Homo sapiens: one gene and its partners. The protein of the gene in region 2 purifies or fractionates together with the protein of the main gene of each other region. This does not show direct contact. Each region holds a gene or a part of one and is shown on either strand. Other genes may lie near its edges.

The links.
Region 1: the proteins of SLC39A5 (region 2) and EFNB1 purify together in Homo sapiens (affinity purification with mass spectrometry; 2 studies listed by BioGRID and IntAct, with this or other methods). This does not show direct contact.
Region 3: the proteins of SLC39A5 (region 2) and CYSTM1 purify together in Homo sapiens (affinity purification with mass spectrometry; 2 studies listed by BioGRID and IntAct, with this or other methods). This does not show direct contact.
Region 4: the proteins of SLC39A5 (region 2) and GPR89A purify together in Homo sapiens (affinity purification with mass spectrometry, with the first as the bait; 2 studies listed by BioGRID). This does not show direct contact.
Region 5: the proteins of SLC39A5 (region 2) and GOLPH3 purify together in Homo sapiens (affinity purification with mass spectrometry; 2 studies listed by BioGRID and IntAct, with this or other methods). This does not show direct contact.
Region 6: the proteins of SLC39A5 (region 2) and FAM171A2 purify together in Homo sapiens (affinity purification with mass spectrometry; 3 studies listed by BioGRID and IntAct, with this or other methods). This does not show direct contact.
Region 7: the proteins of SLC39A5 (region 2) and SCARF2 purify together in Homo sapiens (affinity purification with mass spectrometry; 2 studies listed by BioGRID and IntAct, with this or other methods). This does not show direct contact.

What each region holds. Positions count from the first base shown.
Region 1 is NC_000023.11:68,832,021-68,835,520, forward strand, and holds part of EFNB1 (ephrin-B1 precursor), read left to right. Parts: intron 1-3,500. UniProt on the Homo sapiens protein: Cell surface transmembrane ligand for Eph receptors, a family of receptor tyrosine kinases which are crucial for migration, repulsion and adhesion during neuronal, vascular and epithelial development.
Region 2 is NC_000012.12:56,235,699-56,238,346, reverse strand, and holds the end of SLC39A5 (zinc transporter ZIP5 precursor), read right to left. Parts: coding exon 2,647-2,648; intron 1,974-2,646; exon of another isoform or gene 1,952-1,973; coding exon 1,855-1,951; intron 1,766-1,854; coding exon 1,601-1,765; intron 1,417-1,600; coding exon 1,336-1,416; intron 1,198-1,335; coding exon 1,007-1,197; intron 760-1,006; coding exon 616-759; 3' UTR 501-615; downstream 1-500. UniProt on the Homo sapiens protein: Uniporter that transports zinc(2+) into polarized cells of enterocytes, pancreatic acinar and endoderm cells across the basolateral membrane and participates, notably, in zinc excretion from the intestine by the uptake of zinc from the blood into the intestine.
Region 3 is NC_000005.10:140,192,188-140,195,687, reverse strand, and holds part of CYSTM1 (cysteine-rich and transmembrane domain-containing protein 1), read right to left. Parts: intron 1,243-3,500; 5' UTR 1,223-1,242; coding exon 1,036-1,222; intron 1-1,035.
Region 4 is NC_000001.11:145,624,988-145,628,487, forward strand, and holds part of GPR89A (Golgi pH regulator A), read left to right. Parts: intron 1-3,500. UniProt on the Homo sapiens protein: Voltage-gated channel that enables the transfer of anions such as iodide, chloride, bromide and fluoride which may function in counter-ion conductance and participates in Golgi acidification.
Region 5 is NC_000005.10:32,143,320-32,146,819, forward strand, and holds part of GOLPH3 (Golgi phosphoprotein 3), read right to left. Parts: intron 562-3,500; coding exon 430-561; intron 1-429. UniProt on the Homo sapiens protein: Phosphatidylinositol-4-phosphate-binding protein that links Golgi membranes to the cytoskeleton and may participate in the tensile force required for vesicle budding from the Golgi.
Region 6 is NC_000017.11:44,357,354-44,360,853, forward strand, and holds part of FAM171A2 (protein FAM171A2 precursor), read right to left. Parts: intron 2,780-3,500; coding exon 2,552-2,779; intron 2,319-2,551; coding exon 2,226-2,318; intron 1,753-2,225; exon of another isoform or gene 1,592-1,752; intron 1-1,591.
Region 7 is NC_000022.11:20,435,026-20,438,987, forward strand, and holds the start of SCARF2 (scavenger receptor class F member 2 isoform 2 precursor), read right to left. Parts: upstream 2,801-3,962; 5' UTR 2,730-2,800; coding exon 2,557-2,729; intron 1-2,556. UniProt on the Homo sapiens protein: Probable adhesion protein, which mediates homophilic and heterophilic interactions. In contrast to SCARF1, it poorly mediates the binding and degradation of acetylated low density lipoprotein (Ac-LDL).

The DNA of each region.
Region 1 (3,500 bases), on a different chromosome or scaffold from region 2:
TGTCTACATGTGTTGGCTCGGGGTGGTGGGGGCAAATGGACAGGAAGGAGGCACTGCCCTCAGCTCTCCTTGAGCTTTGGGGGCTGCTTCTGCCACCGCGCCCAACCCTCAGGCTGCCACAGCCTTTCAAATAAACAGTCCCTCTCTGTCTCCCTCCCTCTCTGCCTCCTGCCCGAGTTCTCCTCTCAGGCCCGTGTCAGTTCGCCCTCTCATACCCTCCGCGAGCAGCGCTCACTTCCCCTCTCCAGCTAGGCTCGCCTGCTCTGCCTTGCTCTCACACTCCCTCTCACTCTTAGTCACTCTCTGCCTCTTTTTCTCAAGTCCTTTTGTTTCTCGCACATGCCCGTGCTCTCCCTCTCAGGCTCATTTTCTCTCTTCCTTCCCCTCTTCCTCTCCTGGCTTTTGGTCTCTCTCCTCAGCCCTGTCAGAAGCTGGCAACCCCCCTCCCAAAAAAGAAAATCTCCCAGTGCCTATAAACCCTGCTTAATTGCTTCCTTCTTGGGAAAAAAAAAATCAAAATAAAAGAAGTGGTGGGGCTGGGGGTCCGCTTCCAGGTTCCAAGGTGCGTGCGGCCCGGCCCCAGCCCTGACTGAGAGGGGAAGCGGGAATGGCTGGCCCAAGACTCCCAAGCCTCTTTCCCAAATTGGTGCTGGGGCCTTCTGGGATGCTAGTCCCTGAGTGGCAGGAGCTTCTGCCTCCTTGGCCCCTCCTGTCAGATTTGCCCCATGAGCGCAAGGTGGGGGGATGGGTTTGGTCCTGCTAGAGTTTTTTTTAGGAACCTCTGTGTGTGCGTGTGTGTGTGTGTGTGTGTGTGTGTGTGTCTGAGTTGGGGGGCTGTTATCTAAATGGTCCTAGGCGACCCCTCCCGCAGCCTCTTCCCCTGGGAACTTGGGGCAGCCGGCAGGCCTCACACTTGAGTCCTCAGCCAAGTCCAGCTGCTGCAGTTCAGTCTCTCAGTCCCGTCCTGACCCCTTCCTGCCCCCCACTCAGGTTCCCCCACCTCCAGGGAGTCAGAATGTGCCTGAGATCACATTACAAACATTCCCTACAAGGGGGTGGGGGTGGGGGGGTTCAGCTTGGCATCCAGGACCCTTGACTCCAGCATGGGTGGGGGCAGCTGCAGACCCCAACCCATGCTTGCCTGCTCCAAGCCAAAGTGTTGGCCCCAGCCCCACACAGCTGTTCTAGCTCACAGTCCTGGGGAGGCCAGCTCAGGGGGCCCTTTTCCGGGGTGGTTAGGGACCTGACCTCTTCTACTTTGTGGCTGATTGGCCACAGGTGGGAGCCTGAGAGTGATGGGAATCCAGCAGCTCCTAAAGTCCCCTGTTCCCCTGCCTCCCCTCTCCCACATAGGGCAGCCAGGCAAGGGCAAGAAGGACCTGTGAGGCTGGGGTGGGGACTGAATCAAGGGTTCCCTTTCTTCCCTTGGGCTCTCTGTTGTCTCATCCGCTCAGGTGAATGGGGATGCGTGGGCCCTGGATACTATGGTGCATCACTGTTTTCTGGGGTTAGGGACTAAAGGAGATAGAGTGGGCCAGCCAGGAGGCTGCTAGTTGCCATGGGAACACCAGGTTTGGGGGAGAGTCCACTCTGTGACTATTAGAGGAGCTGAGATACGGGGGTGCTCACCAGCCACATTCTGGGTTCCTTACCCCGCAGACCATAGCAGCCCCTCTTGGGCGTGTTTCACGATCATTGTTTTGGGTCAGGGTGCTAGCAGCCAGGAATGTAAGCTCCTTCAGCTTTTTACTTCTAAATAATGCTGTGTTTGGCATGCTAACTAATAGGCAGGCGGCACCTTGCTACTTACAATGCATTCTCATATATGATCTCATCGAATGCTCCCAACAACCCTGGGAAGTAGGTATTGGTCCCATTTTCCAGATAAGAAGGCATATGCCCGGACAAGGGAAGTGACTTGTCTAAGGCCAGTCAATGACTTGCCTATGGGGGCAGAGCTGTGTTGTGTGCCATTCATTCCTGCTGCCTTGAAATGTAGGAGAGACAGGAATTCAAGGTGGGGTTTGGGAAGAGGCCCTGGCTCCCTGCCCCTGAGTTCCCCTCTTACCTCGCAGGTGTGCAAGCATCTGTCCCTGTGACTCAGGCCCTGTCTGTGTGGGGTGAGCAGTGCTCCAACTTCCTCATTTGACTTTTCTAGGCCTACCTTCCAGGGCTGACTGCTTGGGTGACCTGAACTAAAGGCAGCCAACTCACTGCCTGGCACACTCCCTGCGGAGCTCTGAGTGGCACCTTTGGTTCCTCTCTGAGCTAAGAATCTCTCTTCTCAGGGACCCCACAGAAAGCAGACATCGACATCGAGGAGGGGGGGTATTAAATTCATAATGGACACGAGCCTTAGCCAGGTGGGGCAGAGGGAAGGGCATAGTTCAGTGTAGATGGGGAGGGTGACTTCCTCCAGGACTCTCCTGGCTTCCCTGCCTCTGACAGAGCTGTGTGTGCCAGGACCCAGCTGCTGTTCCTGCCCACCCACGCCTGGGCGGGCACTGCTGGGACATGCCAGGCCTGCTCCTGCCAGCCTCGGGGGCTGGGTGGAGCTGGGGGAGTTAAAGAGGAGCCTTTAATTTGGGGGCTCCCCACCCTAGCTGGGATGAGAACAGACTTGAGCTCTGGCTTGGGGTCTGTCCTCCATTGGTCTTGCCACCCTGGGAGGTGCAGGTGCAGTGGTCGTGGGGTCACTGAATCGAGGTTGAGGCTAGAGGCTTCTACCAGACTTGGGCTTGCATGGCCTAGAACCAGGCTCCCCCTTTGGTCATTCTCTGACCACAAGTTGCTAGAGCCTGAGAGCAGGGTGACAGGGAAAGAAGTATAGACCTGGTGGGATGTGGGCAGCTTTCTGGGCAAGACCCTCCTAGCTGCAAGCTCTCCCTGCCCCCTGTAAATTGTATTCACATGGGTGGAGAAGGGCTTATCCGGAGAAAACAAGGAGGGGGCTGTTGGTTAGTTGGTTTCTGGCCAGTCCAGGGCCTTGGAGGCTACTGTCCCCAACCCCTTCAGGCTTTTCATATCCCAGGATTCTTTGTGGCAGTGATGGCATCGTGGTGCTTCTAAGCTAGGTAGAAAGGCTGAAGGTAGAACTTGGGTTAGGGTAGAGGGGGAAGAGCTGGAATAGCTTAGGCCGCCTCCCCCAAGTCCTTTTACTCCCTGGGGTGGCGCCCTGGGGTCCCAGGGCTATCTGAGGCTGGAGAGGGAAGGCCTCAGGGGTTACCATGGTGACCTGCTTCAGGCTTCCTGCTGAGCCATGTCAATCCCTTTATTTTTCAGAAAAGGGCTTTGTCTGGGGGTGGCCCCAGACAGAAAAGCTTGGCTTGGTCCTAGGGTGGGGGGAAGTAAGGTGGAGGATAAAGAGTTTCACTTCGGGATATCTCTTCCTCCTCTTCCCTTACTCCTACTCCTAATCTGGTAAGAGGGGAGAACTGTAGGGTCCCCCTTTAAAGTATGACTAGTGTTCTACCTAGCTTTGGCCTTCACTCTCACTGGCT
Region 2 (2,648 bases):
CTGCAGACACCACCATCCTGTGTGCAGGTGTGTGTTGGGGGGCACGGAGGGGCATGTTCCATGTCCTGTTGCACCCTCCACCCTGTGACCCATGTACTCGGTTGTAGGAAGTAAAGAGAACTGAGCACAATTCACTGGATTCTAGTGGAATCTTTCTCTAAGCAATTTTCCCATTCCTGCCTCTCCCTGCCCCGGAACCACCTGTGGTGCTAGTGTTGGGATCGGGGGCGTTTAACGCTGGTGGGCAGCAATAAGGGGCAGATGTGCCCAGATGCCTGCATCCCCAGGGTGCCGAGGGCAGCAGGAAAAAGTGGGGACCTCGGTGCATTTGCCCCACCCCTCCCCTCCCTGGGCTAAAGCACAATGTTCTCCCCGCAGATTAATGACCCTGCACCCTCCAGGCCCCTACTCACATCCTCCCCCAACCGGCTTCGGGTCCTCCCACCACACTCTGGTTTTCTATGCTGTTTTGGTGCAAGTACAACTGTCGTAGTCATGGCTTTGGGATGGGTTCTGTTTATTAAAATCCTATTGCTCCTACTGGCCCTGTGTCCCGCCTCCATTCCTGTGGTTGGGGGGAAGGAAGGGCAACCCGACCCCTTTCCACTGGCCCCATCAGCCCTCAGTGGTCACGGGCAGTAGCCGCTCCTCCAGCAGGGTTATGGCAAGCATGAGGCCGCCCCCCAGCAGCAGCCCCAGCCCCTGCAGGAGCACATGGGGCGTAGGCAGGGGCTCCGGAGGACGAAGCAGGGCTGGTAGCTGAAAGAAAAAGAGGATGTCAGGATTCTGGCCTTGCCCCTGACCTCTCAACTCCAGAGGAATGGTGTCAGAAAGCATCAGCAGCCCCCACCCAAACACCTTAGTCCCTTGTTTCTCAGACTTTTGCGGGCCTATGGTCTGACGCCCTTCCAGGAGCTAATGGTAGAGGCGGAGGGACTGCTACCTCCCTCTCCACTCCCGCCTCCCCACTGCCCTTGATTTCTCTGCTCTACCCGACATCTCTCACCATGTCCACAAGGGCCACATAGAGGAAGACCCCAGCAGTGACCCCAAACACCCAGGGAGTGAGGGGGACAGGGCCCAGGCTGAGCCCCACCCCCAGGACTGCACCCCCCAATCCCAGGGCTCCAGACACGAGGCTCAGCAGCAGCAGCCGCCGAAAGGACAGCCCTGACTGGAGCAGCATGGCAAAGTCACCTATTGGAGACAGAGGACAGGATGGGAGGGAGTAAGCTGGGGTGCCCCTCATCCATGCCACCCACCAGCCTCCAAGCTCTACCCCTTGGAGCTATCTCCTTTCTGGAGTCCACCCCACCCTGCTCCTGCCATTCCTACCCAGTTCGTGGGGCAGCTCATGGCAGAAGACCGCTAAGGTGGTACTGAGGCCGCTGGAGAAGCCATCAGAGAAGGCAGCACCTGGGGCCAGCAGGGTCGGAAGTTGTCAGTCCAGAAGAAAAGTCTCCTCAGAAGCAGGTTCCTGTGTTCCGTGGTCCTCCCGTCCTCTCCCCATCTTCCTGACGGCCCTCTCCTAGCCCCAGCTGATAACTAGGAGCCCTGGCCTCCCCTCGGACCTGCTTCCCTCCGTTCCCACCCCTCACACCTATGGCCAGCCCATCAGTGAGGTTGTGTAGACCATCTCCCAGGAGGACCATCCACGTGATATCAGTGCCACCCTGGTGCCCATGACTGTGGCCTTGGTGCCCAGGAGGGGCCAGAGCTGGTGGGTGCTGGCTGTTCTTCTCCCTCTGGCCCTGAGCCCCTGGCTCTGCGGGAAGAAGCACAGGACAGTGTTGGTGGCTGCAAGTAAGGACTGTGAGCTTGGAACCTACTCTTCAAATTTTCTCCTCTAGTCACCTGGAGCTGCCTGTAGGGGCTGAAGGGCCATCCCACTGCCATTCTCCGGATCCAAGTTGCGTGTTTCGAGATTCCTTCGTTTTCGCCTGCAGCATCTCTGAAATAGGAGGGCATCCCTCCTGGTGGAGGAGGCAGCAGAGCCAGGGACTAAGGGGAAGCCAGGCCACAAGCTGGGAAGATGAACACCTGGTTCCACCTCTGGCACCTGGGATGTTCTTTGGCCTCTACCTTCTTCCCAAGTTGGCACCTCCCCTCTGTTTCTTGTTGACTTGAGCTCAGAATAGGATGCCATTTGGCCAGAAGTCCTGGGTCTGTGCTTAAGGAGCCCCTACCCACTCCCTGTTAGCCGATAGGTCCTGCACACCAGGCAAATGTCAGAGATCCAGGAGCACACACTGCTCCTCATCTCTTGGCTTTTTGGCCCAGTTTTGTTGTTGTTGTTGTTGTTTTTGAGATGGAGTCTCGCTCTGTCACCTGGGCTGGAGTGCAGTGGTGCCATCTTAGCTCGCTGCAACCTCCACCTCCCAAGTCAAGCGATTCTCCTGCCTCAGCCTCCTGAGTAGCTGGGATTACAGACACGCACCACCACGCCCAGCTAATTTTTGTATTTTTAGTAGAGACAGGGTTTCACCATGTTGGTCAGGCTGGACTCGAACTCCTAACCTTGTGATCTGCCCGCCTTGGGCTCCCAAAGTGCTGGGATTACAGGCGTGAGCCACCGCGCCCGGCCTGGCCCAGTTCTTGACTGGGACTCTGGTCTCAGCAGAAGGAGGAGAAAAGGGTATCACTCACTG
Region 3 (3,500 bases), on a different chromosome or scaffold from region 2:
AGGCCAAGGGGGGCGGATCACGAGGTCAGGAGATTGAGACCATCCTGGCTAACACAGTCTCTGCTAAAAATACAAAAAATTAGCCGGGCGTGGTGGCAGGCGCCTGTAGTCCTAGTTACTCAGGAGGCTGAGGCAGGAGAACGGCGTGAACCCAGGAGGCGGAGCTTGCAGTGAGCCGAGATCGCGCCACTGCACTTCAGCCTGGGCAACAGAGTGAGACTCCGTCTCAAAAAAAAAAAAAAAAAAAAGCTGAAAGGGCTAATTAAGAGAGCAGCTATTCTGCCAACCAAAGGGCTACAAAATAGTGACCAAGACATCTAGCACAGTGCTCCTCAAGATGTTTTACTTTTAATCTTTCAGACTGATACTTTCTGTAAAATGCAAGATTACATACTTGGATGTCACAGCAAAACCAAATTGCTCTAAAAGTTTCTAAATGTTTACTCTCACTTTCTGTACATATAATATAGTCCATAACTGTTCACTGTTCATTGACTGGCATTTGTCTACAGACTGAACTTTGAGTAACACTGTTCTATAGCACACAAGAAGGACTCAAGAGCCTCCTGAAAACTCAACTGGCAGGTTAAATAGAATTATGAAAACATTTAGTAAGAAAAAAAAGAAAAACCCCAGTAGCAGGGGCAAGAGGATGACTTGAGGGTCAACAAGCTGACAGATAAAATAAACTCAAGAGGCTAATTACTAAACCTAAAATACAAAGCTGGCTACAGAGCAAAGACTCAACTGCTAATTCCTTCCCCACCCCCAAGTGCTCTAGAGGGTAGCCCTCAGAAAACACGTTGGCCAGGAAGTCATCAGCCCCAGAGGGGACAAGAGGTGTGAATGTAGCAGGCAGAGCTGACTTGGGCCTCTTCTCAGGAGTGAGAATCCACCCTAAGCCATCATCAAGCTTTGGGGACATCAAGCACAAGTTGCAAAGGCTGGAAAGAATTTCTTCTCTGCCAAAGAAAACATGCAAACATTTCCTTTAGTGACACGGGACTGCACACCCACATATTCAGAGACACACACCTGTGGTTTTAGGAGGCTCCTGAGGTCCACCCTGCCAGCCGTACTGTGGGTATCCTTGGTAGGGGTACCCTTGAGGAGGTGGGTAGGGTCCCCCCATAGGTCCTGGACCCATTGGTTGTGGTGGATAAGGTGGGTATGGGGCCGTTGGACCAGGGCCTGGATATGGTGGAGGGTTCTCTTGGTTCATCGGGGACCTGTAAAGTGCACCTAAGAGACAAAAAGAATGAAAATTATTTGCATTTAACTGTGGAAATCATCAGGAATAAAATCCTAACCCATAAGATCATTTACAAAATACCTTCAAGGTGTATCAAGCCTTGTGCAAATCTCTAGCTCTGCCCATTTTGTTTCCTTCTCACCATCACTATAATTGGCAATTATCTTATATATTTATTTGCCTTTTGTCTATTTCCTCCACTAGACTGTAGGCTGTGACAGTAGATATCAAGTAAGTTTTGGATCACCACCATGTCCCTAGAGCACTGCAGAGTGCCTGGTACAAGGCAGTCCCCTAAATAAATGTGTTAAATGAATAGCAAGATATTTTGTTTTTTAATTCCTCTGAAGTGTCCATAAATGTGATTGGATAGCTTTAAGAAAGTGTTCTAACAGCACTATGAGTCTCATCAGTGGACGCTGATCCACTACTAGAAACCCTCCAATCAACAGGGCTGGGCCACAGTGGGGCCTTCTAACGAGCAGCACTGGCAGCAATGACCAACCAAAGTTTGTAACCATCACCATTGCTCTGGGGATTGGGGTGATCTGGTTGTTCTCCCCAGACCCGCTGCTCTGAGCAGTTGGACAGCGCTGTTTATAGAGAATGCCAAGCGTCTCCTCTGCCCATCCAGGCCCCTGAGACTCTGGAGGGCTCACCAGGAACATTTATTTGTGTTTACAGGACCCTGTCCTCCATGGTTTGCTTCTGTGAGGGAAGCCACGCTTCCCAGCCCCCAAGCCTGTTAATCATTCTCTTGATTGGGCTTGAAGTTTTCAGGGCCAGCGTCTTGTTTCTATTATCTCTTTAAGTTCCACAGTGCCTGGCACGGTGACTTTCAGATTAAAAACAAACAAATGGCCAGGTGTGGTGGCTCATGCCTGTAATCCCAGCACTTTGGGAGGCCGAGGCGGGCGGATCACGTTGAGATTGAGACCATCCTGGCTAACATGGTGAAACCCCGTCTCTACTAAAAATACAAAAAATTAGCCGGGCATGGTGGCATGTGCTTGTAGTCCCGCTACTCAGGAGGCTGAGGCAGGAGAATCGCTTGAACTTGGGAGGTAGAGGTTGCAATGAGCTGAGATCGTGCCACTGCACTCCAGCCTGGGCAACAAAGTGAGACTCCGTCTCAAAAACAAACAAACAAACAAACAAACAAACAATTACTGGGGAATGCAAAGTATAAACTCTAAGGATGACTCACTTAACATATCATCTGTCATACTGCTGCCTTGTACTGTTACCCATATCTTACATCAATAGTTAACTTTTTACCTATTTGAGTGTCTTCTATCCCCAACCAAATAGTAGGGAAGAGTCTCAGATTCAAAATGTAATAATTTCACTATTAATTCTTTTCCATAACAGGCAATCAACAAATTCCTAAGTGACTTTATTATATAAAGGACAGAATAGTTATAAATAGTCTAGGTTCCCTAGAAAATCTGGATTACAGTAGCAGTGGACTTTGATGGTTGCCCACACAACATCCATATTCTCCCTTCCTAACAGGAGTCAGGTTTCCAGGTAGATCTCTGCTCATTCTTCCTGTAGTTCATGTGCTTCAGGGAAAGCTCATCCCATCCAGCTCCAGGGTGAACCCAGTCTATCTAAGCCAATCGGGGTCACTCTCTCCACTTTTTTATCATGATTGATTCAAGGAATTCAGGACTTTACCCAGATGCAAATGGCACTCCCTGGCCACTGGGACTGGTTCTGAAGTGGTTCAATCAGTAAAAAGCTCAGACTCTCTTAACACACTCCCACCGAACCTTCCCTTCCCCTGTACAAAGGTATACACAAAGTCTAGGAAAGATTGGCCTACAAAATTGCTGACAGCCAATCTGCAGCCCTGAGAAGGAGCCAGTTTTAAGATTAAGTGGGCCATTCAGAAAGGCAGAGCAGAAAAAAGGAAAGAAATGGGATTCCAGATGACTTTATAACAGCTCCTAAATCAAAGACTAAAGCCTGGCCTAACCTAAACTACCTCTATCGAATTTCCAGTCCTGGAAACCAATGGTAAGGTAAGGTAATGAACCCTTCTGGGTGACATTCACAAACATACATTTATTAAGTGCTTTCTTGACACTGGGCTAAGTAGTGGGGTATAGAGATCAATATGCCTCAAACCCTACCCTTGTGCAACTGGCTGAAACAAACATAAGGAAAATGATTTTTAGAAAATGTGGTAAACAGACTGCTGGGTAGGAGTAGGCGCTTAAACCTAGTAGAAGGAGGTGCTGAT
Region 4 (3,500 bases), on a different chromosome or scaffold from region 2:
TGTTGAATGAGCCAGTGTCTATTATAGAATCTGCCATACCTCCCACACACCCTTCCATGTATACTGATTGCCTATAGCAGGAATTTCGGGAGAGAGGTTATGAGACTCTCCTGCAGTAAGATCAGAGGAGATATGCAGTTTTGAAAAGCATATGCAATACCATAAATAGTTGTGTATTTTTAAAATAAGAATAACTTTCAAAATTTCAAATAACGTTAAAGGCCGGAAAACTTAACATAACACCAGCCTGCCAAAAGCATTCAAACTCTTAGGTGGCGTATGAGACCTTTCATGACCTGGCTGCTGCTCTCTATACATGTTGCATTCTCCAGTCCTGTGAAATTATTTCAAGTTTCTTTTTTTTTTTCTTTTTGAGACAGGTCTCACTCTCACCCAGGCTGGAGTGCAGTGGCATGATCTTGGCTCACTGCAACCTCCGACTCCCAGGCTCAAGTGATCCTCCTACCTCAGCCTCCTGAGTAACGGGGACTATGGGCGCATGCCACCATACCCGGCTAATTTTGGTATTTTTTCATAGAGATGGGGTTTCTCCACGTTGCTCAGGATGGTCTCGAACTCCTGAGCTCAGGGGATCAACCCACCTCAGCTTCCCAAAGTGCTGGGATTACAAGTATGAGCCACCACACCCAGCCTCAAGTTTCTAGAGCTGTTCTATCAGCCTGGACAATCCTTCACCAACCCTGTCTACCTAGAAAATGCCTATTTATCCTTTCTAGATTCAACTCTTGTCAATTCCTTTAGGAAGATTTTCCTGGCCATCATTAGGAGATATTAATTGCTACCATCTCAAGGTATCTATATCATCTATAAAACTTAAAATTTCATGTTTCCTTTTCTAACTTCCTCATCAACCTATGGGCTCCCTGAGGTCAGAAAACTCCATGTTATTTGTCTTTGTATCCCCAGTGCCTAGTGTGGAAACTGACACATAACAAGTGTTTAATACGTGTTCTTTGAATCAGTGGATGGAAGAAAATTGAGTCTCTCCAAAGTGGTAGATGAGTTTACTACTTTAACACTCTGGATAGGAATTTAGGAAATGCTAATGTGATCAGCATGCCTATGTCAATGGTCAACAAAGGGAACGACTTGCACTAAAGAGTCCTGGTAGTATAGTTCTCATATAAACCTATTTCAAAGAAACCCACAGACAGACACATTTATCTGTGACGGTAGAAGTCAGAGAGAAGAGTTAGAAAAGGCCCCCAGGGCTGCTGACAGGGCAAATACAGTCTCACATGCACTACAAAGACCCGACTCTGACACCTTTCTCCAGCTTTCTCCTGTGTGCATTCAGCTCACATGACCAGTGCAGCCAGGCCGCACCAGAGGGAAGATGAAGGCCATTGTATCTATTGTCCTTTCATCCACCCCTTTTTCTAAATTCTATGGGATTACCCTGAAAAGGACACTGAGGGAGAAAGCTAGGGAGATAGTTTCAGTTTTATTCTTTCCATTGTACTCCAATAGGCATTACAGTTTTATGCCTGAATGTTCAGGTATCTTAATTTATTTAACCCTTTAAGATAAGTAAGGAGGAAGAAAAGTTTAGGTAGTAGCTGAGAAGCAACCAGCCTTACACTGCCTTCTTAGAGCTTTCCCAGGACTGTCCCAACAACCAGTATGGTTGTTTATTGCTGTGGTGACCACAAAAAAATGGGCTGGGCAGGTTGGCTCACCCCTATAATCCCAGCACTTTGGGAGGCCAAGGCAGGGATATCACTTGAGGCCAGGAGTTAGAGACCAGCCTGGCCAACATGGCAAAACCCCATCTGTACTAAAAATAGAAAAATTAGCCAGGCATGGTGGTGCATGCCTGTAATCCCAGCTACTCCCCGGAGGCCGGAGACACAAGAATTGCTTAAACCCAGGAGGCTGAGGTTGCAGTGAGCCGAGATCGTGCCACTCCCCTCCAGCCTGGGCGACAGAGCGAGACTCTACAAAAAAAAAAAAAAAGATAAGACCAATCCTTATGTAAAATGAAAAAAAGATAATCTGTAAAAGTACTTCTTGTGCGGTGTCTGAACCAACCTTGGAATGTCCTTAGTGGGAAAGAGTAAGAGAGATTACAAAAGACTGTAAGGAATCTGTGTGAGCAGGTGGCAAAGGTGAGATGATCTTCTGCTAGTCTCCTTATTCATCTGACTTTCCATGTATTAACTGCTAAATGGGGATAATGATGACTGACTCCTACTTCATAGAAATGCTGAGATTAAGTAAATAGTATCTACAAAGTACTTTAAACCAGAAAAAGATATGTAATAAAAGGACAAAGACACCATGTTAAAAGGAATAAAGGTAGAGGGGGAATTTTTTCAGTTTTTCAAATTTAATAGCCCATATTAATCTCTTGGATTTTTTATGTTACTGAGTGATATTATAGTCAACAAACATTTGTTGAACACCTCATATGTGCCAAGCAGTAAGGAAAACAAAGATCAATAAGAAATGATGTCTTCTTGTAAAGGGGTTGCAAATTCAAGAGGTATACGGCAAGTAGAATAACAGAATTTAGGTGAGGATTTATTCGTTCATTCAGCATTACACAAATATTTATTGAGCATCCACTTTATATAAATTAAGCACTGGAAATAAACCACAAACGAAACAAACTTGGTTTCTGCCCCCCTGAAATTGATAGTCTTGTGGGTGGAACTAGACAATAAAGAGGTAAATATATAAATAAATAATTGCCAATTGTGATCATTGTCATCAAGGAGTGAACAGGTTGCTGTGATAGAGAAAAATGCCGATAATGTAGTGCAAACAGTTAGATCCACCCTTTCTGAGACAGGGATATTTAAGCTGAGATTTAAAGGACAAGACCAAAGGAAGACCCAGCAAGAAGGCACAGGAGACATCATGTAAAGCCCTGAGGCAGAAAGACCTTGGTGTATTCAAGGAAAGGCAAGAGATAGAATGGAAAGTAATCGTATAGTGTATAGATTTTATTGTTAGGGTGATTATGTCATTTTCTAAGACAGGTAATGCAGAGGAAGGAACAAGTTGAGGGGAAAGATAATTTTAGTTTGGTATATGCTGAATTTGAGTTACTTATGCATATCCAGGTGATGTTAAATAAGCAATTGGATGTACAAATCAGGAGCTTAGGGAAAAGGTGTACATGTATCAGTCCTCATAGAGATGACTCCAGGAATCTAAACAACTAGAAATCATCAACTAAATGCCATTAGGTGAAGCTGGGGAAATTGGTGAGATCACCTAAGCAAAAAATGTGTATACTGAAATGAAAGTGAGAACTCTGGTCCAGACAGAGCAAGAAGTGACCAAGAAAAAGCAATTAGAGAAGTAAAAGGGAAAACCTAGGGAAATGGTGTTGTGGAAGCCAAGAAGATAAAATAATTTTAAACAAAAATGATTCAATGTCATAAAAGAGCCAATGAAACAAGGATTGGAAAATGTTGAATTTTGCAACCAGGGGAAAACTTATTACCATAGTGTCGTAGTGGTTAAAGCCC
Region 5 (3,500 bases), on a different chromosome or scaffold from region 2:
CCGCAGGGTCCTCTGCCTAGGAAAACCAGAGACCTTTGTTCACTTGTTTATCTGCTGACCTTCCCTCCACTATTGTCCTGTGACCCTGCCAAATCCCCCTCTGCGAGAAACACCCAAGAATGATCAATAAAAAATAATAATAATAAAATAAAATTAAAAATAAATAAATAAATAAAAGCTGCAAATGAAGTCTAGAATCTTTCTGAATTTGTAAGATCCAGTGGCCGGTTACCTTAACAATCAATTACATTACTCATTGTAGGTGAAAGAACCAGGAAACCAAGAATGCAAAAAAGATATGGAAATACAATTGAAGAAAGACAACTTTAATATCAACTTCCACTTTAATTTTTGAAGGCTACTAGTAAAAACATACATTTTAAGCAGTACAACCTCTTTAAAAAGAATGTTACTCAGCACTCCTCTTACCTTTCTTGTTAATAGACTTTTACGTCTCATTCCACAAGCCTCTAGTTGTAACCTTCCTCTCAATGCTAATTCAATTAACATACAGCCACGTAATCCAGATGATATACAGTCATTCCAAAATGATGTGTAACCCTATTAAAAAAAGAAGAAGAAATAAAACAAAATAGCTAATTTACCTTGAATTCAGAGTAAAAAACAGAAATATTATCAGCCAAAGTCATATTTGGTGCCTTTTACCTTTCCTGTCTTTCTATAATAATATACTGAAAAAATACAATTAACATAAATTACTAATCGAGAATTTTCGGGGGCTTATCTTTCCACCACTTATTCTTACATACAAACAACAAATAACTTTAGAGGTCATAAGTTTAGAAACATAACTCACATTTCACCAAGCTGTGTGTTTATTAGGTTCTTTCAGAACCCTGCAAACTCCAAGGAATACTCAGTTAACCCCAGATTATAGTGATTTATTTATGTGGACAAGTTAAGAAGCTCAGGCAAAGACAACCTAGCCAAGTTAGCTTCACAGAGAATTAGAATACCATTCATTTATTGCTGTTTAGGATAAAACCACAAGGTTAATCCGAGCACTTTGGGAGGCTGAGCCAAGACGATGGCTTGAGCCCAGGAGTTTGAGACCAGACTGGACAACATAGTGAGATCCTGTTTCTACCAAAAAAAATTAATTAGCTAGGTGTGGTGCTGCACACCTGTAGTCGCAGCTACCCAGGAAGCTAAGGCAGGAGGACCACTGTGTCCAAGAGTTCAAGGCTACAGTGAGCAATAATTACACCAACACACTGCAGCCTGGGCAAAACAGTGCGACATTGTCTCTTAAATACACACACTGTTAATTTTGTAAGAAGATATTAGAAAAACACACATGCGCCCACAAACAAATGGATGGCTATAGGCCTAAAATTCTCAATAATAAACAGTATAACAATCAGATTGGCCCCAAGAGAGAATGTAAGGGCAGCATCCACAGTGGAAGAACGGCCAGACATAAGGAGGTTGATAGACATCTAGAGATCTGGGATACTGGTCAAGCAGGCATCACCAGATGAGGTCAGGACACTTTAACAGCAAACAACTGGGGTTGTTCAAATTATAAAGCCACAAATCTTGCCAGCAGGATTGCCAGCTATCAATTTAAGATACCCAGTTCTCATGAGACAGCAGAAGCTATAAATAACTCTCATTAAGGCTCAGAACAGGGTAACACAATTTTGGTAGGAGAACAGGCCAACTGAATCTCTAAAGAATGGAGGGCCCAGGATTAGGAAGGCCTGGCCCTCACCTCTGGCACTTTTCCAAGGTCAATCCTGGCACTTTGTCAGGCCAGAGTAGTGAGCTTGTGTTTCAGAAGATGACTGACCATTGAGGTCCATCAAACTTCATTTTTGATACAAGGAGTTAAATTCGCCTCACCAAGCTACCACTTCTGAGAATGTGACCTTTGGGAAAATAACAATTTAAAGGAGGCACAAGCGGATAAACAAAAACATCAGTGTTAAGAGATCAATTTAAATGTGAGGTGTAAGTAGCAGACACTGACTGGATTTTAGGGAGTCACTTTAAACTTAGGGTCGGGGCCTGATCAAATGAAGATTACCAGAGATTTAGCAAAGTGGCTAATAATACCAGTACTTTATAGAGGTTAGGTAAAATGCGTGGCTTCTGTGTCCATGAAATTAAAGCCCTAGGAAGCCTGAGAATGAATTCCACATGAAATTAAAGTTACAGATATCTGGCTTTGACTGGCCTGGACATATAGACAGAGTTCCTAAATGAGCCTCTACAAACTGTAAACAACAGAGAACACCTCATAAAGCAATAATGGACGTGAACAGCCCTACAGCCTGCAAACTCCAGCTGAACAGTACCTGGAGGCTTACATTTGACAGCAGAGAACTAAAATATGTCTCAATCTCAATTGCTCCTAGAGTAATGGCATACCCAGAGATATTAGCAAAATGGGGTCTTTAGTAACAGACTTCAGAGATCTAAATTTAGTGAATGGCTTTAGGCATCATCGCTGAAAGACACATGCTTAAACAGAATTGGATTCACATGGGAAAGTAGATGAATGGGAACGGACAGTTCTGTACCACAGCTTCTGGGACTCGTCAGCAATATTCCAAAGATAAATGAAGCCAACAAAGACACACCAAACAACAGAAAAGTACAGTATGTTGATACCCTCCTGCTAAAATCCATGTCATAAAAGCAGGATCAAAAATTAACCATAGGGTGGCCAGGCGCAGTGACATACACCTGTAATCCCAGCACTTCGGGAGGCAGAGGCAAGCAGATTGCTTGAGCCCAGGAATTCCAGACCCCTGGGCAACATGGTGAAACCCCATCTCTACAAAAAATACAAAAATTAGCCGGGCATGGTGGCACCCGTCTGTGGTCCCAGCTACTTGGAAGGCTGAGGTGGGAGAATCACCTGAGCTCAGGAACTTGAGGCTGCAGTGAGCCATGATCATGCCACTGCACTCCAGCCTGGATGACAGGAGTAAGACCCTATCTCAAAAAAAAAAAAAAGATAAAATATGTGGGGAAGGTTAGTAACTGGCAGCATCAAGCAGCTTATGACTGTAGTCATAATTAGTTCCTATGTTCTAAAATATAAGGATGGGAGAGGACAGAGACACCCCAAGTAGGCTGGGCCATACACTACCAGACCTCCATCTGCCTGATTCCCTTTATTCTTTCAAGTGGCTCAATTTGAATGGTAGAAAAGGGTATTGTTTATTAAGTCCCCTAAAACTGCCAACACTGAGAAGAGTTCTCACCATTCCAGTTAAGAGCTACTGTTCTGCTCTCAACTGCCTACTTACCCAGAAGCTTTTTGTTAAGAAGGAACTCAAAAGGTTGGTAACCCAAAATGAAATGTAATAAAAATATTTTGTATAAAGATCATAACAGGGATATAACCGGAAGTATAAGATTTTCCTTATATGTTATTAAAAACATTTACAACATGGGAAAATGCTCATAATATATATTCTACATGAGAAACAGATAAAAAATTATATTATCTAAAGCAGAGTGTCCAA
Region 6 (3,500 bases), on a different chromosome or scaffold from region 2:
AAAAAAAAAAAAAGGCCGAGCGCGGTGGCTCACGCCTGTAATCCCAGCACTTTGGGATTCCAAGGCAGGTGGATCACGAGGTCAGGAGTTCAAGACCAGCCTGGCCAAGATGGTGAAACCCCATCTCTACTAAAACTACAAAAATTAGCCAGGTGCGGTGGCAGGCGCCTGTAATCCCAGCTACTCGGGAGGCTGAGGCAGGAGAATCGCTTGAACCCAGGCAGCAGAGGTTGCAGTGAGCCAAGATCATGCCATTGTACTCCAGCCTGGGCAACAGAGTGAGAATCCATCTCAAAAAAAAAAATTAATGAATTTTTAATTTAATTTACTTCAATTTAATATGTAGCTAGTGGCTACTGCATTAGACAGTTTAGGTCGTGTGTGTGTGTGTGTGTGTGTGTGTGTTGGGGTGGAGGGGACAGACATACAAACAATTCCAATACAATATGGTCACAGCTAACATTTATTAATCTTTAAGCTATGCTGGGCACTGTTCTAAGCAGGTTACCTATATTAACCCCTGCAATTAGGAAAATAGCCCCTGAGCTAGGTATCTATTATCAACCTCATTTTAGAGGTGCAGAAATGGAGGCACAGGGGTTCAGTAACTTGCACGAGGTCACAATCCTCGAGCCCGGATAGAAGCCCAGGCCATCGGGCTCCAGGCCCATCCTCTGCCATGCCATTCCTCCTGCCTTGCTATCCAAATAGAGGGATGCAGAGGACTAGGGGAGCTGGTCTCACTCAGCTCAGGGGAGGCCCTGTGGAGTCTTGGAGGATGTGGAAGACTCAGCCAGGAAAGAAAGAGGGAAAGGACATCCAGGAGGCCTGGCATGAGAAAGGCCCAGAGGCGTGGGGCAGAGGGCGGCCCGGGCTCTGGAGGGTGCAGTCAGCTCTGAGATGGCACCTGGGCTTGGTACTGAAAGCAGTAGGCGCCATGCAGGGGCTTCAAGCTAGGGGGCCACAAAGGGTCCACTGGTATTTTAGAAACCTGCAGGGGCACTTAGAAGCTTGGGATCAGAGTGACGAAGGTGAGCAAACAAGAGCAGCTTGGTGAGGCCGGGTGAAGTGACTCGCGCCTGTAATCCCAGCACTTTGAGAGGCAGAGGCGGGTGGATCACCTGAGGTCAGGAGTTCGAGACTAGCCTGGCCAACATGGCAAAACCGTCTCTACTAAAAATACAAAAATTAGTCTGGCGTGGTGATGGGTGCCTGTAATCCCAGCTACTCAGGAGACTAAGGCAGGAGAATCCCTTGAACCCAGAAAGCAAAGGTTGCAGTGAGCCGAGGTTATACCACTTCAGCCTGGGCAACAGAGCAATACTCCATCTCAAAAAAAAACCCAACAACAACAACAACAAAAACTAGCTCCATGACAAGGGCTCAAGCTGAGACTACAAACTGGGATGGGGTTCCTCAAACTCCGAAACCCACCATGGCCCTCTAAGCGGAATGGAGCCCCCAAACCCTCACTGTCCTCTACTACCCTCCACCTGATGTCTCCCCCTGGCCTTCCTCTCCAGTGGAGGTGCCTCTGCTTCCCCTTCACTCCTGAGTCGAGGGCTGACTGCTCCGTTCGACAAGCTCTCACCCAGCCAGGTCCCCTCGCAGGTTAGGGCCGTCTCAGCACTGAAAGCAGCTGCCCTCCACTCCACTGCCCTGCCTGCTCTGGAACTATTTCAGGGCTTGCAATGATCTGTCTTCCTACTTGTCTGTGAACGTCCAAAGGCAAAGAGCGGGTCTTCTTCCTCACCGTGGTTCCCAGCACCAGCCACAATGCCTGGCACAGCCTAGGAGTTGAAGTAAGTACTAGCTGAGCGAGACCAAAAGCCTGGGGGTAGACCAGGAACTGCAGGCTTGCTCTGGGCCTTGCACTTCCTGTGCACCTGTGCATCCAGCAGGTGCACAACAAATCTGTGTAGACCCATTGAAGATAAAGGTGGCAGGGAAGGTAGGAATAGATGGAGAATAGAAACCACGAGAAGCCCCGATAACTGTAAACATTTATTGAACACCTTCTGTACTGTGTTTTTTCACTTTGTGATTTCTTACTCCAATTTGATGATGTAGGCACTAACCTTCCACGTCTTACAAATGAGCAAATTATGGCTCAGAGAGGTGAAGTGACTTGCCCAAGGACACCCAGCTAATATAGGACAGTGGAGGTCTCTACACCTAGGTCAGGGGAAGGAAGAAGAGTTGGCGTGGGTGAGGGGGAGCCTTACCGGGAGAGCCTAGGAGAATGTGCACCAGGTCCTCATAGAGGATGAGCGTGGCCGGCCGCTCAGGGAGCAGGTAGAGGCTGACAGACGCATACACTGCGGGAGGGATGGCCGGTCAGCTCCAGGAAAACCCACCCCCTACCCCCCAGCCAGGCACCCCCTCCATCTGAGTCCCAGAGGCTTCACCCTCCCTCAGCCCCCTCTGTGTACCCCAGCCCAGGCAGCAGCTGCTGGAAAGCCTCCCCCTCCACCCCCAAGGAGACTATTTTGGGAAGGGGCTGATGGAGGGTCAGCTGCTGTCCCCCCCCTCCACCTGCCCCTGCACTCACAGGGCAGCTTGTCAACACGCCAGGGCACAGAGTTGGTGAGGAAGCCAGGGCGGGCAGCAGTGACCAGCACCCAGGTGCCCAAGCGATAACTGAGGGGCAGGGTGGCCACACCCTCTGAGTCTGTGGTGCCAGCTGCCAGCAGAGTCCGGTTCCCAAACACATCCACTGAGGCCCGGGCCAGGGGCACCAGCTCCCCGCTCACATACACCTGCACCTTGATCAGGATCTCTGTGGGCAAGATGGGGCAAAGGGAGTGAGGACGAGGGAGGGGGAAAGAGAACTGGGGGGAGCCCCAAGATCAGAGGAAGGAGCTGTGTTTGAGAGAGTCTTTTGGGCTGAGGCTAGAGAAGGCATGATTTAAGACCCAGCATTCACAGAGCACTCACTGAAACCTCCTATCAGCCCATGCCGGAGGTGGGACTATTCCTGTATTTCATCGTCTAACACATGCGCTGTGTCACATTTTCACAATTCTAAACTCGGGCTATGCCTATGATTGATGATGCCATCGTTATAACTGGCAGCATTTCTTCCTTTCTTACTGGTACCTGAAATCATGGTGCATCTTACAGTCAGTGGTGTATTGGATTTGATAATATATGCTCTTAGTCCATTTTACAGATAAGGAAACTGAGGCTTAGAGAGTTTAGATACTTGGACTACAGCTAAGTGGAGATCTGGGATCCAGACCTGGCAGTCTGCCTCTAGAAGCGACATTCTTAACCCCGGGCCTGGGGAGAGGAGAAGGACAGGAGGGCTGAGAAAGGCTAAGTAAAGCTGGGTCCGCAGGCGGAGAGGAGAAGGGTCAAGATTCAGCAGTTTGAAAGGGAGGATGGAGGCTAGGGCAGAGTTTGGGGTCTTGGGAAAAAATTGACAGGGGACACTAGGAAACTGGTCATTCCCATCATTCATCCTTTTCCCAGAATCCTTTGCACAAGCCTGTTTCCCT
Region 7 (3,962 bases), on a different chromosome or scaffold from region 2:
CTCTCCCCATCAATGCTAGACTTGCAAATCCAACTGCCCAATAGATGATGTCACCAGAAGGAGACCTCATGGGCCTCATGCCCAACCAGCCCAAACCTGAACTCTTGACCTCCTTGCACCCTGAGTCTTCCCTGCCTCAGATAACCCTGCCTGTCCTTTCAGGCTGGGAAGCTGAGACCTGGAGAAGCATCTCTGACTCTTCTTTCTTGTCTACACCAGATCCATTGAGAAAAAAGACGCTGAGCTCTAGCTTCTAAACGATATCTAAAATGGGATCACTTCCTCCTTCCCTATCCCAGCCTTGTGAGAGCCACCCTCCATCTCCCTGGCTTTTTGTAACTGGCCCCAGCTTCCACCCCCTGCCCCCCAGGGTGCGAAGTGTTTGCCACCTGGCAGCCAATCCTGGTCAGATCCCACCCTTTCTCTGTACAAAGCCCCCAGGGGGTCCCATGGCCCTCAGAAGAAAAGCCCAAGTCTTCTGAGCAGTGGCAGCCCACGGTGGCCTGCCCACCCTCACTCTCTGGCAGCTCCTCCGCCAGCCCCTCCTGGACTCTGCCCAGCCTCCTGGATCCTTCCTGTACTTCCACAGGCCCTCTGCCTTGGGAACCTTGCCCCAGACACCCACAGGGCCTCCGTGCTCTTCTGCAGGCCTGTGCTCACTCACCACCTTCTCAGCCGTTCTCCTCAGAACACCCTAAAGGAAACAGCACTCCCCAACCCAACACCTCCCAGCTCTTGCTAGATGTCTAGACACACTTGCTTTTCTGGACTGTGTCTCCTCTGCCACAGGGTCAGGGTCTCCACTGCAGCTTCCCTACACCAATACAGGCCTGGCACAGTGTAGGTGCATAGGATTTTACTGGCTTTGCACTCTCCTCTCCCCATCCTCCTGCCTCCCAGGAAAGGGAAGGGCTGATGGAAGCCTTGCAAGATGTGGGAGGACAACAAAGACATGACCCAGACCCCAGGTGGGCAGTGCCCAGAGTGGCTGTCCTTCCCATCGACCCTTGCCACTCATGACCACAGCGATCTCCACTTAGCCCCATGAGGGGGTTGTGATCACTATCCCATTTTACAGAGGTGGAGACAGGCCCAGAGAGGTCAAATGACTTGCCCAGGTCCACACAGCTGGGTAGGGTGGCACCAGGATGGGAACCCAAACCCAGGCTCGGTTCCTGGAGCAGGCGCCTCCTGGGAGGTCTGCAGACCAGGGGAGCGGGAGCAAAGGGCTCTCAGGCTCCGGACAGCTAGAGCCTGGCACCGGACCCCCATTCCTGGTCCCGGGCCTGTCTGGGAAAGAGGGCTGGAGTGAGTAGACAGAGACCACGGCGATCGCGCCCTCCCCCTCTCCAGGCACCGCCCCGCCCGCCGCCGCCGCTGCATTCCTGGGGCCGGGGAGGCCCGGGAGTCCGCGGCGGCGGCATCGATGCGAAGCAGATGGCGGGCCAGGCCGGCCCCCGCCCCGGAGGCGGGGCTCGCAGCGGGGAGGGGTCTGCGCGCCTCCGGACCAGAGTTCGGAAACCCCGCGCTGCCCCCTCGCAGCCCCTTGTCTCTGGCGCCGAGCCCCTGGACTCGGCTTGCCCCGGGTCCGTGGCTCAGGCGCCCCGACGCGACCCAGCTCGGAGCCCGGCGGCCGCCTCTGCGGCTGCCAGCCCGTGCGGCGTCTCCAATCCGCGCCAAGGCGCCCCCACACGCCCGCTCCTCACCCCTGCGTGGAGATGCCCTTGACCTTGTGGCCTTTGGCCAGCCCACCGGCTCCCCCGACCCCAGCTCCTAACTCCTGGCGTCCGGGGCTCACCTCTCTGCCCTCCGTGCAAACTCCCGGACTCGCCCCCCCACCGGCCGGGCCTGTCGCCTGCCTGTCCCACACTGGCTTCCCCAGCCGGCGCCCCACATTTGCGCGGCCCCTTCTTGCACCCAGAATCCCCACCTGGTTGTCGCCAGGGTTCCCACATCCTCCGGTCCCCTGTGCCTGTCATAGTCCTTCCGCCTCCCGCTTCTGGTCCACTTCGAGCGCCGGCTCCTCGACGCTCGCCTGGGTCACCACCCTCCCACCCGCGCCCGCTCTAAGACGCGAATCTGTCTTTCCAAGTCTGGCTTGCTCCAGGACCTCCCCGGCTAGCACCGCTCCTCCTCCCCTGACCTTCCTCCTCACTCCCACTCCCGGCTCCAGTCGGACTAGTGCGGGGCTTTAGCACATGCAGTTCCTTTGGCTTGAATGCCCTTCCCCAGCTTTTCCCCGTGGACTTCACAACTCGGTCAAGGGTCCCTTTTTCCAGGTCTTTCCTGATATCCCGGACAACGCGTGTCATCCCCTGGGTGCCCACGGCACTCCATCCTCCCCTCAGGTGACTTCTCGTCCAGGGTTCCCTGGGATGCACTGTCGTGGCCCATGGCCGAGGCTGGGCCTGGAACGGAGCCGCGCTGGCTAGGGAGCCGAAGGGGCCCACACTTGGCGTAGGAAGGTTCCGGTAGCCCCCTCCCAATGCCCGGCGCCGCCACACCACTGCCCAGAGCGTCCCTCTCGCCCCCTCCCCCAGCCAGGCCGGCTCCTACCCGGGAGCACGGCACACGTTGCGGCCGCGAGGGTTCAGTTCCTGAGGCGCCACGGTGTCCGGCAGCATCCAGAGCAGCAGCAGCAGCAGCAGCGACGGCAGCAGCGGTGACGGCGGCCCCCCGGCTCCCCGGCGCCGCGCCGGCCCGGCCCCCCGGGGCCCTGCGCCCTCCATGAGGCGCGGGGCAGGCGCGGGGCGGGCACGGGCGCGGGTGCGGCCGCAGCGAGAGCGGCCGGAAGCGGAGTGCGAGGCCGGGCGGGGGGCGGCAGGAGGGGCGCCGAGCCGGGCAGGAAATTCCACATCGGCTCCCTGATCCCGGGCCAGCCGCGGCCGGCCAGGCGGCAGCGCCCGCCCCGCGCTCCAGACCCCACCCTCCGGCCTAGCCACCGCCCCTCCGCGCAGCCCCCGCCCCCATTTGGCCGCTCGCAAACTTGGGGGCGAACTTGGAGGAGGCCCGCCGAGCGCTGGTGGAGGGAGGGTCCGCCCGAGGAATCCCCGGTTCCCGCGCCTTTCCCTCCGCTCCCTAGACATCTACCGAAGCAGCCGCCCCTGCGCGCCCACTGCGTAGGCCAGGCCCGGGACGGGAAGGCGGATCGGGGACACGGACGCGACTCCGCAAGCCCACCCCCGCTCCCAGCGCCTCGGAACCGGCCAAGGGAGTGGGGCCCGCAGACAGCCCAGGTCGAGGCCGAAAGCCAACTCCACAGCACCCCACCGCGAAGTCCTTGTAGTGCTGGGGTGTGCGGTCAGCTCCCCCTGCGCACTCCTGCGCACTCAGAGCTCGCAAGGGGCGGACCGAGCAGGATGCTTGAGGCCTGTGGTAGACTCGGTCCGGACCAGAGGCCTGGGGGAAGGGGTCTCCGTAGGGACGGATGGGAGAGATACAGAGGAAGTAGAATGGCCAGGCTGTGGACTGCGGTAGGAAGTAGAGGTAAAGACAGAAGGAGACCCCCGGGATGGAAACCCTGCAGTCCTAGTTGAGGAGTGAAGGGGGCTGGGGGAGCCTGGGCGGTGGATTCTGCTGGCTGTCGGATTTCCAGGAGAGGCTGGGGCTAGAGAGTGGGAACTCCTGCATCAGGTAAGGTGGGTAACAGCACAGAGCAGAAGGAAGGTGTGGGAAGGGAGCAAGACAGAGGGACAGGCCCTAGGGAGCCAGCGGGGAAGCTGGACTTGGACTGGGAGGCAGCAGGGTGCGGGTCCCCGGGGGGCAACTGGGGCAGACCGACTCTGGAAGTTGGGCAGGGAGCACAAATGTCCCGTGTGTAGCCAGGTCCTAGTGAGGATGTTTGTCTTTTGGGGACTTGAGAGCTGGCAGAAGGCCTAAGCAGGGAGCGGGCACCTCCGTTCTTTGGGGAGCAGGCCACATGCGGCCCACAGGCTCACTGAGGGAGGGCAGGCAGACTCTGT